Linked DNA regions of Homo sapiens: region 2 is linked to region 1. A link means that fine-mapping ties the variant in region 1 to the expression of a gene that starts in the linked region. Tissue or cell type: esophagus mucosa. Region 1 holds a variant in brackets; the other region holds the start of a gene. All regions are shown on one strand. Distances are between the middles of the regions.

The links. PIP is the estimated chance that this variant, and not a neighbour inherited with it, causes the effect.
Region 2: it holds the start of MMP24OS, and the variant in region 1 is fine-mapped to the expression of MMP24OS in esophagus mucosa (GTEx, PIP 0.96).

What each region holds. Positions count from the first base shown.
Region 1 is chr20:34,999,445-35,007,444 of GRCh38, reverse strand. It overlaps MYH7B (myosin heavy chain 7B), which reads right to left. Exons shown (of 45, transcript NM_020884.7): 37 at 7,750-7,874; 38 at 7,539-7,654; 39 at 6,756-7,152; 40 at 6,552-6,677; 41 at 6,287-6,457; 42 at 6,096-6,200; 43 at 5,919-6,014; 44 at 5,360-5,497; 45 at 5,008-5,268. The coding sequence ends at 5,257. It overlaps TRPC4AP (transient receptor potential cation channel subfamily C member 4 associated protein), which reads left to right. Exons shown (of 19, transcript NM_015638.3): 15 at 870-1,010; 16 at 1,642-1,750; 17 at 2,875-2,987; 18 at 3,829-4,035; 19 at 4,162-5,041. The coding sequence ends at 4,299. Among named protein-coding and RNA genes, the nearest start is that of MIR499B, 13 kb to the right of the region's middle. The variant A/G (reference allele first, on the strand shown) is at 3,126.
Region 2 is chr20:35,273,985-35,281,984 of GRCh38, reverse strand. MMP24OS (MMP24 opposite strand) reads left to right here and starts at 3,863. Exons shown (of 2, transcript NM_001355003.2): 1 at 3,863-3,976; 2 at 4,053-5,633. The coding sequence starts at 4,056. The coding sequence ends at 4,271. It overlaps MMP24-AS1-EDEM2 (MMP24-AS1-EDEM2 readthrough), which reads left to right and starts at 3,863. Exons shown (of 15, transcript NM_001355008.2): 1 at 3,863-3,939. It overlaps MMP24 (matrix metallopeptidase 24), which reads right to left. Exons shown (of 9, transcript NM_006690.4): 9 at 4,987-7,713. The coding sequence ends at 7,376. EIF6 (eukaryotic translation initiation factor 6) reads left to right here. Exons shown (of 7, transcript NM_002212.4): 4 at 1,156-1,331; 5 at 1,867-2,043; 6 at 2,238-2,419; 7 at 2,779-3,067. The coding sequence ends at 2,788. RefSeq lists silencers at 3,684-3,903, 3,994-4,213 and enhancers at 4,344-4,513, 4,634-4,733, 5,320-5,927, 5,928-6,535.

The sequences.
Region 1 (8,000 bases):
TCGTGACTTCCAAATGCCTGTGCAGGCTGCCTTAGATTTTGCCCTGGGTTTCCAACTGTGGGTTCCCCATGGGTGCTTACGGGGTGACAGGTTTAGAGGGTGGCCAGGCCATGCAGGAGGGTGACAGTTTGGTTACCCAGCAAGGCATTTTGACCCTGAAGATATTTTGTACTAAAAGTTAATTTTCCTTTATTGAATAATGGTCTTCAGAAAAAGTAAAACTTAGAGCAGAATGGCCAAAGTTATAATTGGTCTTTCAGATTTTTTCATATGGACAAGAAACTGACCCACGAATTATAAAATCCATGTGGAAAAGAATTGATCCAAATCAATGTAACTTCAAGAAAATGTAGAAAACTTTATAAAGGAGTAAATTGGCTTTATTCTCTTGATGAAAACTCAGTATTTTGGTGTAAACTCTATTTAAACAATTTCGTTCATAAACACAAAGACAAACCATGGGGTCAAAATGTGTCCTTTGCTTTTAAATTCTGTCCTTCATTTACTTGAATGACCTCAGTGCTTAGGCAGTGGCCTGTGTTTTAGACCTGGTGATGACAGCTCCCCTCACCTAGGAGCTGAGCACCCCGGCCATCTTGGTGACCACAGAGCAGGTCACAGGCTTCAGCTGTACGCCCTGGGCAGGGGAGAGATTGTGCTGCATTCCCAGTCTGCTCCACCTCCTGGTGAGGTCTGTCAGGCCTGGTCCTGTCCTTGGAGCCACCAGCATCCTCAGACAAGAATCTAGACAGTGTTGCCAGTTCCATCCCCAGGATGCTTGCTCAAAGCCAATGCATGGTCTGAGCTCCATGCCAGGCCCTGGTGGGGGCAGCCACGTTGACACCTTCACCCTGTCCCTCCTCACCCAGCACATCCTTTACTGCATTGTGGACAGCGAGTGTAAGTCAAGGGATGTGCTCCAGAGTTACTTTGACCTCCTGGGGGAGCTGATGAAGTTCAACGTTGATGCATTCAAGAGATTCAATAAATATATCAACACCGATGCAAAGGTAAAGTTAACCCAGGGCTCTGTGGAGTGTGCTGGGTTGTCCAGAAGTTCACCTGGAGTCCTGGTCTGCCAGGCTTTAGGCACAGGTTTTACGTTAGAGACGACGGGGGAGTCTGGGCAGTCTTTGGCAAACATTCATTGGAACCTGCTCTGTCTGGCTTTGTGCTAGACCCTGGGAATGCAGGGATGAAAACCGGGGCTGCTTGTGGGTAGGGAGTGAGGGTGGGAATGGGTGGCTTGTGCGCCTGCCGTGACGCAGCATGGTGGGTGCCACGGTGGGAGCCGCTGTAGGGAGGGACTGGGCCTGGTGTGTTAGGCTCACCGAGTGTGTGTGACAGAAACCCAGCTCAGGCTAGCTGAAGTAAAATTAAAAGTAAAAATTAAAGGAATCCAGCACCCTTGAGCGTAAAACCACTGGAGAGAGTGTCGGATCTGTGCTGAATTCCGGGGAGTGCCTCTTAGTACCTGGGTGGTGAGGGGAGGTCCCTCAGCTTATCTGAGCCTCTGTCTTCCTATCTGAAGCAGTGGGGCTGGTAGAGGTCGCTGATGCCCCTTGTAGTGACTATCCCCCCGGGCCATGGCCATACCTGGCCAGCAGCCCACTGCCTGCTGTGAGCTTGGTTTCTGTATAGTTCCAGGTATTCCTGAAGCAGATCAACAGCTCCCTGGTGGACTCCAACATGCTGGTGCGCTGTGTCACTCTGTCCCTGGACCGATTTGAAAACCAGGTGGATATGAAAGGTACATGAAAGGCAGGCTGTCAAGGCAAGTCATGCAGGGTAAGAATGCTGGCATCAGACACCCTGTCTCCAGCAGGGAGACAAGAATGACTGAGGGAGCTGCACCAGATGCCCACGTGGCCGGCCTCAAGGTGGCGGCTTCCAGGGCAATTGGCTTTGCTGCCTTGTTCAACACTTTAATAAGGTGAAAATCCATTGTTGCTAGCAAGATGCAAAGAAAACCAGAAAAAGACCTTCCTCTTCTGGGCTGGTATTGCCTGGCACGATGAGTTGGCCCCCTCGTCCTCAGTGTGCTGTGCGTGGCATCGCAGGTGCCCTGTGGTGCAGCAGGCATCTGAACCCTCCTGGACTTGCTAACGCACTTCCATGTGTATGCGCACGCGTTTCCTTTTTTTCCTAGGAGAGGGCTTGTGGCATCCAGCAGATTCTCCTGAGGGTTTGTGACCCCCCCACACCCCCAAAAAGTCAGGCACTTGTTCCTTGTCACGGTCACTGTCATTGATAGCAAGAAGTATCCCGGTTGTTGGTAATTTAGCCGTTTGCTTCCTTTTTCTGCCCCAGAGGGTCTGTTTCAGGGGAACAGCCACACAGATTTTGGTACCTTCGGTTATTGCCCTGCCTCCCAGTTGTGCGGGAAGCAGTTGCTCCGACACTAGTGGACGGAGCAGAACCTGTGCCTTGTGGTCTCAGCACTGGGCCGGACTCACCTGAGAGCTGGTGTGGAAAACCAGTTGCGCTAGGACCTCTGCAGAAGGAGTGGAACTTTTGCGTTGTTTTTCTTAATGCAGCGTCATGGATCCATCTTCCTGTGGAGGGAACTCTTCTGTGTGTGATATGGAGGGCACGGGTCTGGAGCCAGTCTGGGGAGGGCTGAGGGAGAGCTGCCCTGAGCTTGGTTCTGGAGGATGAGGTGGGGTGCTCCTGGGCACTCTGAGAACATGGCTTTGCCTGGTAGCAGGACAGCTGGAGGTCCTTCTTTCTGCCACAGTCAGCTTTCGTTGAAGCTGTTTTGATGATGAGCTCCTAGCTTCAGAGTCAGGACCCAAGCGGGGCTCCACGAAAGGCCTGGGCGACCCAGCCACTGGGCCTAAGCCTGACCTGCTGCACCCCTGCCTCCCTCCACAGTTGCCGAGGTACTGTCTGAATGCCGCCTGCTCGCCTACATATCCCAGGTGCCCACGCAGATGTCCTTCCTCTTCCGCCTCATCAACATCATCCACGTGCAGACGCTGACCCAGGTGAGAGGCCCCGGCAGACACACAGCAGGGAAGGTCGATTGGAAACCACTTCCTTTGTCCTGGTGCCCAGCAGGTTTCTGTCCCCCACTCCAGAAGTGCGTCTCTGGAGACCCAGCTCTTCTGAGGACTGTGCTCAGG[A/G]GGAATCAGTGTCCCATTGTACAGACAGGGCCTAAGGAAGGAGGGCTCGCAAGTGCCCTCAGGTCACAGGCTGACTTGCAGGCCAGTGCTCTCCCCGCCTCCCCCATGTCCACGTCCCTCACACCTTCTGCCCTGCTGGGCTTTGGAATCGGACCTGAGGCTGCCCAACTCCCTCACTGAATAGTCATGCAGCCTTCCCTTCTCTGAGCCTCCTGCCCCTCTTTTCTAGAGTGAGGGTGATCTTAGCACCTCTCAGAGGTGGTCTTTGGTTCCGTTCTGAGGTGAAGCACCAGGTGGGAGTGCATGGTGAGTGGGGCAGAACTCTTTCCCCACCGAGGCGCGCAGGCTAGTGCTGAATGGCACTTCTGAAGCGGGATAACCGCCCCAACACACGCACCCAGCCCTGCCTGGGACGGACCTTCCGGAAGGAGTGATGCTTGAGCCCAGGTCTGGACAGGGACAGGTGTTGTTGCCTCAGGTGGGGTGGGAGGTGGGCGTGGGGAAGAGGAAGGTGCTCAGTCAGGAAACTGGGGCTGCTGGGGGCCCCCTTCCCCCAGTCCTATCTCACCTCTGTGCAGGGAGAGCTCTGTGGGTGGCCCGAGGCCTGGGGCCACTCTCCTCCCTGCCTGATGGCTACCCAGGTTCACCAGGGGCCACTGGGGCTCCCACCAGCCCCTGACCCTGTGGGCCTGTGGCCTTGCAGGAGAACGTCAGCTGCCTCAACACCAGCCTGGTGATCCTGATGCTGGCCCGACGGAAAGAGCGGCTGCCCCTGTACCTGCGGCTGCTGCAGCGGATGGAGCACAGCAAGAAGTACCCCGGCTTCCTGCTCAACAACTTCCACAACCTGCTGCGCTTCTGGCAGCAGCACTACCTGCACAAGGACAAGGACAGCACCTGCCTAGAGAACGTGAGTGCCCCACCCTCAAGGGGGTGATGGGTGGGCCGCGGACCCAGGGCCTCTCAGAGGGGTGTCCCGGTGCTGGGCTTGACCTGGGTCCTCCAGGCGCCCCCCAGCCCCTCCCTCTTTGCCCAGAGCTCCTGCATCAGCTTCTCATACTGGAAGGAGACAGTGTCCATCCTGTTGAACCCGGACCGGCAGTCACCCTCTGCTCTCGTTAGCTACATTGAGGAGCCCTACATGGACATAGACAGGGACTTCACTGAGGAGTGACCTTGGGCCAGGCCTCGGGAGGCTGCTGGGCCAGTGTGGGTGAGCGTGGGTACGATGCCACACGCCCTGCCCTGTTCCCGTTCCTCCCTGCTGCTCTCTGCCTGCCCCAGGTCTTTGGGTACAGGCTTGGTGGGAGGGAAGTCCTAGAAGCCCTTGGTCCCCCTGGGTCTGAGGGCCCTAGGTCATGGAGAGCCTCAGTCCCCATAATGAGGACAGGGTACCATGCCCACCTTTCCTTCAGAACCCTGGGGCCCAGGGCCACCCAGAGGTAAGAGGACATTTAGCATTAGCTCTGTGTGAGCTCCTGCCGGTTTCTTGGCTGTCAGTCAGTCCCAGAGTGGGGAGGAAGATATGGGTGACCCCCACCCCCCATCTGTGAGCCAAGCCTCCCTTGTCCCTGGCCTTTGGACCCAGGCAAAGGCTTCTGAGCCCTGGGCAGGGGTGGTGGGTACCAGAGAATGCTGCCTTCCCCCAAGCCTGCCCCTCTGCCTCATTTTCCTGTAGCTCCTCTGGTTCTGTTTGCTCATTGGCCGCTGTGTTCATCCAAGGGGGTTCTCCCAGAAGTGAGGGGCCTTTCCCTCCATCCCTTGGGGCACGGGGCAGCTGTGCCTGCCCTGCCTCTGCCTGAGGCAGCCGCTCCTGCCTGAGCCTGGACATGGGGCCCTTCCTTGTGTTGCCAATTTATTAACAGCAAATAAACCAATTAAATGGAGACTATTAAATAACTTTATTTTAAAAATGACTGCTGTGGACCTGGCTTTTGTCCCTAGGACTGTGTTTTTCCTCCTGAACCCCAAAGAAAAGAATGAGAAGGAAACTGGCTGTGGTGTTTATTCAGGGCCCAGGGAAGGCTGAAGGCAGCAGGGGGCGATGCAGAGATGGCAGGATCGGGGCAGGTGGCCTCAGCCAGATGTGCAACAGCAGACATTCCTCTTTAGAGCCCAGGGGGTCAGGCCGTCACTCCTTGTGCTGAGGAGAAAGGGATAGCTGAGTGAGCAGTACTACCTGTCAGCCCCCACAGTCCCCCTGCACAGAGAGCAATGCCCCTGCCACTCCTCACCTTGGGGCCCAGGGCGTCCCGGGTCCGTGCCCGCAGCTTGTTGGCCTGGGTTTCCGCCATGTCTGCCCGCTCCTCCGCATCATCCAGCTCGTGCTGGGCCTTGCGATACTTGGCCAGGTTGGTGTTGGCCTGCTGCTCCTGGGGGCACACACAGGGCCTTGGTTCCGCTTGGGTGACTGAGATGCTTATTCTGGTCCCTGCCCCAGTCCAAGAAGGGAGCTAGCTCCTCCTGGTTCTCAACTTTGTTCCTATTGCCACTGTCCATCCTCACCAATACCACAGCGGGAATAAGGAAGTTGGGACGCACCAACTTCATGTGCCTTTTTGTGCCTGCCCCACCCCTCAGAGGCAGCCCCAGCCTTGGCCAGGGGAAAGCACATGGGGTCTGTTCCATGAGAAGGAGCTAGGTCTGATCTCCCCAGAGATGTTAGAAGCTTCTCTCTTCCCTCTGGGTCACTGACCTTGGAGGGTGGAGCTGCTGCTGATGCCTCACCTGGCCACAGACCCTGGGGCAGAGCTGGGGTGCCCGGTCCAGGTGTCCAGGCCCCAGCGCACTCACCGCCTCCTCAAACTGGCGCTTGTAGCTCTTGACCTTGCTCTGCAGCTTGTCCACCAGGTCCTGCATGCGAGCCAGGTTCTTCCTGTCCTCCTCGGCCTGGGCGGGCAAGGGGGACTCAGGGCTTGCTTGGGCTGGGCCAGCTCCAGGGCCACTCCCCAGGGAGACCCTGTCGCCCACCTGGTATGCGAGCTCCTTGACACGGCGCTCATGCTTGCGCACGCCCTTAAGGGCCTCGGCGTGCTTCTTCTGCTCTGCATCAAGCTCAGCCTCCAGCTCCCGTACCTGCAGGCAGGGGGACAGCCTGATGCCAAGCCCACCCCTGGGTCACCCACCCTGCCTGCGCCAAGGACTAGAGGGGCTGCACACACCTTGGCCTCCAGCTTCTGCACCTGCTTCTTCCCGCCACGGAGGGCGGCCTGTTCTGCCTCCTCAAGGCGGGCCTGGAGCTCGCGCACCGTCTGCTCCAGCGTCTTCTTCATCCGTTCCAGGTGTGCACTTGTGTCCTGCTCCTTCTTCAGCTCCTCGGCCATCATGGCCGCCTGTTGGGGAGGAGGAGCTGGTCAGGTGCCCAGCCTCAGGGAAGTCCCTCTGCAATTCTGTCCCAGGCTCCCCACAGCCCTTGCCCAGCCTCACATCAGTGATGGCCTTTTTGGCCTTCTCCTCAGCCTCCCGCCTCTCCTGTGCAGCCTCCTCCACCTCCCCGCTCAGCTGGGCCAAGTCCGCCTCCAGCTTCTTCTTCTGGTTTAGGAGGCCTGTGTTCTGAGGGGAAGAGGAGTCTCAGAGCCAGCCAGCCAGCAGGCCTGCACCTGCTCTGTCCCCAGGGACTCCTGTCCCCACCTGCGAATGCAGAAGGTTGAGGCGCTCGGTGGCCTCCAAAAGCTCCTGCTCTGCCAGTCGCCGGCTGCGCTCGCCCTGCTCCAGGGCAGCCCGCAGCTCCTCCAGCTCCGCAGCCAGCAGCGAGGCCCGGCGCTCCAGAGCCTGCGCCTGCTCGTGGAGCTCAGCTGCCAGCCGCTGCTCCTCGTCCCGCCCTGCCTGCTCCTCCTTGAGCTGTGCCTGCATCAGCCGCGTGGCAGCCTGGGCCTCTGTGGCCTGACGGGTGGCATGGCCCAGCTGCAGCTCCAGGTCGTTGAGGTCACCCTCCATCTTCTTCTTGAGCCGCAGCGCCTCATTGCGGGCCCGTGTCTCTGCATCCAGGGAGGCCTGCAGGGACTCCACAGCTCGCTGGTGGTTGCGCCTATGGGAGGAGGGTGGCATGAAAGGGGGTCTCGTAAGGGCATACCTGTCCTTACAAATGCCCAAGGACCGTTGGAAACGAACCCATTTTGAGAACAAATGAGTCACCCCTCCCCGATTTAAAGTCTCTTGTGACTGCCTGTGGCCCATCAGAGCAAGTTCATGGACAAGAGTGAGGCCCAGGCAGACAGAGGTGGACTGACTGGCTCCACCCCCACTGTGTGACTTTGGGCAAGTCCTTTAGCATCTCCGAGGTTCACAGCTAGAATGGAGACAGCAACCCGGACCTCAAAGTCCCATGGGAGGGACAGACTAGAGAGCAGAGTACACACTGCTTCCCTCCCCTTCTGCTCTCGGGAGGTGGGGACGGGAGAAGGATGGACACACCTCAGGTTAGCGCACTCCTCGTCTTTCTCTGCCAGCTTCCGGTCCACTTCTGCTTTGACCTGGGAGAGCTCCAGCTGGATCCGCAGCGTCTTGGTCTCCTCCAGCTCCAGGGCCCCCTGTGGATACAGAGCAGGCAGGGTAGGGTGGGGGGGGGGGATGGCCAGTGGAGCAGCAGGTCAGTGTCCACCCACCCCTGCAGCCAGCCCCTGACCTCTGCCTCCTCCAGTGCAGCCTGGATCTCACTCTTCTCGCCTTCCAGCGCCTTCTTGGTTTTCTCCAGTTCCTGGATGCTCTTCCCACTGAGACTCACCTGGTCTGTGAGGTCGCTGATCTCCTCTGCAGTGGACAGGGTGCTGAGAGGCCACCCCCATGGCTTGTACTCCCACCCAGGTCACTCCACTCACCCCTGATTCCAGGGTGGCCCCACCAGGGCACCCCCATAACTCAAAGTTGCTCCGACCC
Region 2 (8,000 bases), 270 kb before region 1:
GTGCTGCTATGTTTTTTTAGTGAACACATGTACATATTTCTACTGGGTATATGATACCTAAGAGTGGCATGGCAGAGTCACAGGTTATGTGACTATTTAGTAGTAGTTGCAGATGATGCCAGATAATTATCTAAAGTGATTGACCAACTTACACTCCTGTCTCAGTATGAGAGTTCAGTTGCTCCATATATCTTTGCCAACACTTGGAATTGATGACTTGTAAAAATTTTAGTCATTCTGGCTGGGGGCAGTGGCTCACACCTGTAATCGTAGCACTTTGGGAGGTCGAGGTGGGCGGATCACCTGAGGTTAGGAGTTCGAGACCAGCCTGGCCAACATAGTGAGACCCCATCTCTACAAAATCACAAAAAGTTAGCCAGGTGTGGTGGCACGCACTTGTAATTCCAGCTACTCAGGAGGCCGAAGCAGGAGAATCACCTGAACCCAGGATGCAGAAGTTGCAGTGAGCTGAGATCGCACCACTGCGCTCCAGCCTGGGTGACAGAGTGAGACTCTGCCTTAAAAAATAATAATCTAGCCATTCTGCTATGTGTGTAGTGTTAGCTCAGTTTTTTTTGTTTTTTTGTTTTTTTTTTTTGGAGACGGAGTTTCGCTCTGTCACCCAGGTTGGAGTGCAGTGGCGCGATCTCGGCTCACTGCAAGCTCCGCCTCCCGGGTTCACGCCATTCTCCTGCCTCAGCCTCCCGAGTAGCTGGGACTACAGGCGCCCGCCACCACGCCTGGCTAATTTTTTGTATTTTTAGTAGAGACGGGGTTTCACCGTGTTAGCCAGGATGATCTCGATCTCGATCTCCTGACCTTGTGATCTGCCCACCTCAGCCTCCCAAAGTGCTGGGATTACAGGCGTGAGCCAACACGCCCGGCAGCTCAGTTTTTAAGTAGCAAAATATACAGCTAATGCCAAGAGCTCAGCTTCCCTCCCAGTTGGTGATGGTGAAGTAGGCAGGATTTATTGGGATTCCTGGGTGGTCTCTGGCCTGCCCTGGGTGTTTTCCAGATCAGTGGGTTGGAGGGCTGGGCTCTGGGCCTAAAGCTTTCCTGGGAAAGCTGATTGGGCTGGGCTGAGTGGTATCCTCAGCCCCTAGGGCTCAGCAGGCATCTTGTGTATTCACCCTCTAATTTGGGTTTCTCCAGGGAACAGGCACGGTCTCCTGGTACCCAACAATACCACCGACCAGGAGCTGCAACACATTCGCAACAGCCTCCCAGACACAGTGCAGATTAGGCGGGTGGAGGAGCGGCTCTCAGCCTTGGGCAATGTCACCACCTGCAATGACTACGTGGCCTTGGTCCACCCAGACTTGGACAGGGTGAGGCAGCCCAACTTGACCCAAGAGTCACAGGGCCATCCTAGTCAGTGGTTAGCCACTGTTCTTTCCCAACAGGCAGCAATTAGGGGTCTCTCCTGTGGTTTTTCTATATGGGCTCTTGAGTTTCAGGTACTCATTGGAATAGTGATAACAGAGGCCTTATCAAGTGTCAGAAAGAAGCTGGGGAGGGTATGAATCCTTCATGATTGGGGAGATTGAACCATCCAGTCCTGCATCCTGGGCCAGGATAGGTGATTGACTGTTGAACTTTTGACTGTGGGTGAGAGGGGAAAGAAGTGATATTGAGACCAGCCTCCAGCTGTTCAGGGCATGCATGAATATTAGGGGCTTCACAGCTGCCCTTGACTCTGCTCTAAGCTGTACTTCCTCCTTTCTCTGGGTGAGGCTTTCATATGAGGTACAGAGGAGAAATGAGGGGCTCAGGGAGCCAAGGCCTGGATGCTTCTGGGCATGGAGAACCTTGGTTCTGGGGCTGTAAGTTCTGAGCCCTGAACACAATATCTTTGATTGACAGGAGACAGAAGAAATTCTGGCAGATGTGCTCAAGGTGGAAGTCTTCAGACAGACAGTGGCCGACCAGGTGCTAGTAGGAAGCTACTGTGTCTTCAGCAATCAGGGAGGGCTGGTGCATCCCAAGACTTCAATTGAAGACCAGGATGAGCTGTCCTCTCTTCTTCAAGTCCCCCTTGTGGTAAGCATTCCTGTCCTCTGAACCCCGTCTCCCGAGGCAGATCCTTTTGCCTAGTGTTTGGGAGTCTGGGTCATTACCTGCCACAGTTTGGGACTGGGGCTGCAGGTCAGGGAGGAGCAGGGTTTGGGGAGAGTCTTCATTGAGGAGGGAGAGAATTTGGTGCCGTGACTCACATTGAGCCCATCCCTTGGCAGGCGGGGACTGTGAACCGAGGCAGTGAGGTGATTGCTGCTGGGATGGTGGTGAATGACTGGTGTGCCTTCTGTGGCCTGGACACAACCAGCACAGAGCTGTCAGTGGTGGAGAGTGTCTTCAAGCTGAATGAAGCCCAGCCTAGCACCATTGCCACCAGCATGCGGGATTCCCTCATTGACAGGTACCTGGGGCCTCTCCTTTCTTCTGCTCAGGGTTGGGGGTTAACTTGCATTTTGAGAGTATGGGGAAAAGATGTCATCTAGAATGGGAGCCTACCAGTTTGTTCTGGTAGCTTCTCGAGTGTGAGAGCATATCTGTACACTGCTGAGCAGATAAGAGCCAGCATATTCAAAAAATATTTCTTGAGCATCTGCTAATCCTCATCTTTGTGGTTTTTCAGGGCTAGGATACTAGAGCAGTAGCTGCTTGAGCAGCTTGTCAGAGCTGGTCCCGGGATGAGGGCTGAGGCAGGCACCTCACTTGAGAGTGAGGTGGGCTCTGTGAAACAGCTACTGACCGTGCGCTTTCCTTTCTCTTCAGCCTCACCTGAGTCACCTTCCAAGTTGTTCCATGGGCTCCTGGCTCTGGACTGTGGCCAACCTTCTCCACATTCCGCCCAATCTGTACCGGATGCTGGCAGGGAGGTGGCAGAGAGCTCACTGGGACTGAGGGGCTGGGCACCCAACCCTTTTCCACCTGTGCTTATCGCCTGGATCTATCATTACTGCAAAAACCTGCTCTGTTGTGCTGGCTGGCAGGCCCTGTGGCTGCTGGCTGAGGGTTCTGCTGTCCTGTGCCACCCCATTAAAGTGCAGTTCCCTCCGGGCCATTCTGAATGTGATGTTTGGGGCCCTCAGCCTGTGTACAATCCCTGCACTCTCCAGTTGTTCCAGCATTCTGGGAAGATAGGGTGGGATGAACACAACACACACCCAACCCAGTTCACCACCTCCACACACGCCATTCCCTTCTCCTCTACCATCAGGATGTGAGGCTTCATCCTGGGGCAAGAAACACTCTCCACTACAGTTCTCCTTTTTTCTTTTTTCTTTTTGAGGCAGTGTCTCCCTCTGTCACCCAGGCTGGAGTGTTGTGACGCAAGGATGGCTCACTGTAGCCTTGACCTGTTGGGCTCAAGCGATCCTCTCGCCTCGTTTATTTTTTTGTAGAAACGAAGTCACTGTGTTGCCCAGGCTGGTTTATACTCCTGAACTCAAGCGACCCACCGCCTCGGCCTCCCAAAGTGTTGGGATTACAGGCGTGAGCCACGGCGCCCGGTCTAGTTCTCACAGTTTTCACCCGACTTCTGCGCCGGTCTTCTCTGGCCTTGAAAGGCAGAGAGTCCGTTCCGATTTTCCCCTGAGCTGGGCAAGTCCCCTGTGAGAGCTCTGGGGCATCTGGCTTCGGGGCATTCTTTGACTAAGGTGGATGGAGGTTGCAGGTCTTTTCCTGGGTGGGCGTGGGGCGGGGCAGCGGGTTCCCAGCGTCCTCCTGGCCTGGGCGTCTTGGAGGCTGTTGGGGTGCATTCCGTCCCCTTGCGCGGGGCGGGGCCTTGAGGCGCTGGGGCGGGATTGGCGGGGGACGGTCGCGGAGCCCCGCCCCGAAGCACAGGGTCGAGTCCCTTCTTTCCGCTCCAACGCACGGAGGGTGAGGTCGGTACGCGGTGGTGGCGTCACGGCGCCAGCTCCTCCCGACGCCGAGGTGGGTTCCGGGAGACCCGCGGGTCTGGCTGCGAGAGGTGAGGGCAGAGCCGGGGCGGGGCCCTAGCGGGGTGTCCCGGCGACCCAGACCTTAAAGGGCTTCTCTTCTTGCAGACCATGGGGGCTCAGCTAAGCGGCGGCCGCGGCGCCCCGGAGCCTGCGCAAACCCAGCCCCAGCCCCAGCCCCAGCCTGCGGCGCCGGAGGGCCCGGAACAGCCCCGGCATCCGCCCCAGCCCCAGCCCCAGCCCCAGCCCCAGCCCCAGCCCGAGCCCAGCCCGTGGGGGCCGCTGGACGACGTGCGCTTCCTCATCGCCTGCACTTCCTGGTACTGACGGCGTCCTCCGCAGGATGTCGCCCGTCTGTCCGCCGTCCCCTGTGGTTCTTGCCTGCCTTGTCTCCTCTCCCCACGTCCCTGCGTCTCTTACACCCCCTCCCACCCGAGGCTCCCCAGAGATAGCAGAGAATTCGAAGAGGTCGCCGGGGACTGGAAAGAAGTCCCGGCAGGGCCGCCTTCGCAGTCTACACCCCAGCCTGCTTCCCAGCCTACACCCAGACCCAGCTCAGACCTTCGTGACCACCCCATCCCTTTCTCCGGCTGGCTGGGTCGGGGGCATCCCTCTCTGTCGCTGGCTTCCAGAGGCAGGACAGGCCTCCTGGTAAGCCCGCAAAGTTGCTGACCTCCTGACTTCGTCTGCCTTTTATTAATATCTGTATTGCTGATAACCGTGCTCTTGACTATGTGTCCCAGGTCATGTCCCAGGTCATGGAGAAGCCCGTGCCACAGTGACCCTCCCCATACTCCTGGGGGGGCTGCTCTCCATCCTGGATCGTAAGGAGGCATCATCAGGCTGTGTTCCTGGAACCCCAATAACCCTGGGCCCCCAGGGCCAGCCTGTTGTAGAGGGAGGCTATCTGACCGCCGGTCTGGCAGAGGAGATGGGTGGGCAGCTCCCAGACACCCCAAAGGACCCGGTTCTCTTCCCAGAGCGTCCTAAGGTTACTCTTGGAACCTGATCTTTGTTCCCTCATCCCAGGGAAATGACACACTCTGTATTTCTGTTTTATTTAGAAATGATTTAAAAAACATTATACAAAGGCTGATCAGTTTAAAATGTGACTGACACTGAAATGCTGTGATGTCCCCCAGGCTGAGGGGAAGCTAGGCTCTGGGGCCCCCAGTGCTTTGCCCCTCTGTCTGCCCTGTCCTGGGGTGATGGACAAACAGATGACCACAGGCAGGAGAATCTGAGATTGGAAGCCTCTAGGCTGAGCCCTCTGGGCCTGGCCCCACATCCCTCACCTCTGCAGCCTGGGCTGCCTGCCTCCATCTCCTGTTCATTCTCAGCTGGCCTGCCAGGAGCCAATGGGGAGCCTGGCGGGAGGCGGGGGTGCCTAGAGCTTTCAAGAAGTGAGAGCACCAACCTGAGGAGTGGACAGGGACCAGGAAGTGGGGGAAGGGAGGCCAGGAAGAGGTGGATACAGGAGACACTTCTCATCTCATCTCAGACCCTAGAGGGGTCCACAGATGGGGACACAAGACCCAGCCAGCCCACTGGATGGCCCGGGCAAGTAACAACCTCTCTGTGCTTCATCTGAGGGCACGGTGAGAGTTACCGTCGGCCTCCCAGGGCCTAACACGAGTTTCATGTGAGTGGACAGGTGTGAGCTAATAAAGTGCTTTGCAAAGTATAAAACACTGTACAAACCTATGAATCACTAATATCTCCGCAGTTGTTCCCTGCCTGTCCCAGGGAGCCTGCCCTTGGCCAAAATGAGAAAAAACAAGGATGATGACAGGGGACACAGCGGACCCACATGGGCACCTCTGGGACAAGAGATTTTGCTTGAGACAGCTCCCAGGGCAGCAGGAGTCCCTGTCTGTGCTACAGGGTAAGCCGACCCCAATCCCAGAGACCACAGGGTCGGGGGCAAGGCCCATGCAGGCTCAGTGAGCAGGGGTGGCATCCGAGACCCGGCCAGCACGCTGGAGACTGCCTGACACCTTTTTGGCTTTGGCAGAGAGCCAGTGGGCATTGATGAACCCATTGGCCTTGTCTAGGGCTCCTCAGTGACAAGCAGGGCTGCCTCCGCCGTACTGTGGAGCAAGGCAGGCCAAGCCCTAGGAACTCCTGCTGGAGACAGTGAAGGGCGGGCCAGTGAAGGTCAAAAAGGGAGCCCCCTCAGCTTGGGGCTGCTACCGGTAGGGGTGTCCTTCTAAGAGCAGTGTGGGAAGATGGGCCCAGTGAGCGAGGTCAGCAAGGGCCAAGCTCTGGGAAAACACTGCTTCCAGCCGAGAGATTGAGTCGGCCTCAGAGTAGCTGGAGTCGGCCTCAGAGTAGTGGGGGCACTGAGCACTTCAGACGCCCTGGTCCCCTTCCGAAGGACTCCCAGGCTCTGCCAGTGTTGGCCCTGCAGCCATCTCTGCCTCACCTAACTGGTGAGGCTGAGCTCCAGGCTGCAAGTGACAGACTGGAGCAAAGCTGGGGACAGTGACAATAGAGGGGAGTGGAGGACGGTCACAAACTCGGATCTTCCTCCAGAAATGGGGTCAGCTTCTGCCCCAGCTCTGTAGCCATAGGAGCAGAGCTCAGCTACTGGGGTGTCTGGGCGCTAGAGTGGCCTTAGCAGCACCTTGGTCCTTGTCGCCTGGGGGAGGGCCGCTATGCTGGCCTCATCACCAAGACAGTCACCTCTAGTTCACCTAAAGCCTCAAGCAGCCTTTGCAAAATGGGACAGTAGTGACAGGACATTTAAATATTCACGATGTGACAGCTGGGTCCTTGTCAGACCCAGCTGGGCCACAGCCCTGCCTGCAGCATGTGACCCTAAATCCTGGGTCTCCGAAGAGACCCTGACAAGTGGAGCAGGTTTCCTGAGGGATCTGCCGTCTGCCAGCAGGGAAACCCAGGCTTGTTGCTCACTGTGTCAGAAGCAGGGGTCCTGTAGCCTTGGAGGACAGTGGGGTGGGGGTAGGGGGACATCTGACCAGCAGGTGTTGGCAAAAGGGGACCAGGACTGGTGGTATCTCCCGGATGGGGGATGAGAGCTAGTGCTGGCTTCCCACAGAGGGTGCTGGGTTCCAGCCAGGAGTGGAGCTGTGGTACCTCATGGACACCACAGGATGCCGTGACCACAGGGGCTCCTCCTGGCATGGTCCCTGCCTCCGGATGGAGCCTGGCCTATTCCCTTAAGTAGGGAGTAGTTTGCCCAGGACAGAAGGCTGGCAGCTGGGTGCCAGACACCCACCCTGGGGCACAGCCCCCATAATTCCCTGCCCCACGCTCAGCCTAGGCCAATGCACCCACCACTTCAGCTGTACGACCCCAGCCTAGGGCCCTGCTGGCCCTGGTGAGCACTGGCCAGAGCTGCCCCTCAGACCCTGGTGAGGAAGGGCCTGGCTGGCCAGACCAAGTGGATAGAGAGGGCTCTGGGCTGCTCACACCCATTCCTGGACTGGCCGCTTATAGTAGGTGACAGGCTGAGGGCCTGTCTTGTTCTTGAACTGGAAGATGGTGTAGACCAGCACCAGGATGCAGAGGGACAGGATGCAGGGGATGACCACGGCCACGGCGTTCACGGAGCCCGGCACATCGTTGATGGTCACCATGATGTCCACGTCGTCCTGGGGCAGCCGCCGCTCCTTCCGCCGCTCCACCTCCTTCTGGTTGCAGCCCATCCAGTCACGCAGGATGTTGCGCGGGTAGCCTGGCTCCACGCTCAGTTTCTGGTTGTCAAACTTCCAGTAGTCCCGGCCCTTGTAGAAATAGGTGTAATCTGCAGAAATACAGCCCAGCATCACCACTCCCAGACACTTCCGGCACCTGCTCTGGGGCAGTGTGAAAAGGAGGGCACAGGCACTGTGGCAAGGGAGGCAAGGTGGGCACACCTGGAGGTTTGGGGTGCAGTGCTTGGCTGAGTCATGGAGTAAGAAGCTGCAGAGGGGGGCACCCGGGACCTGGAGTGGTCCGCCTGTCATCCTACGGGTGCTAGGAAACCAGAGGGGCTTCAGGGAGAACTGGGACATGGTTCACTTTGTGCTGCCCAGACAGGACCCCTTGCAC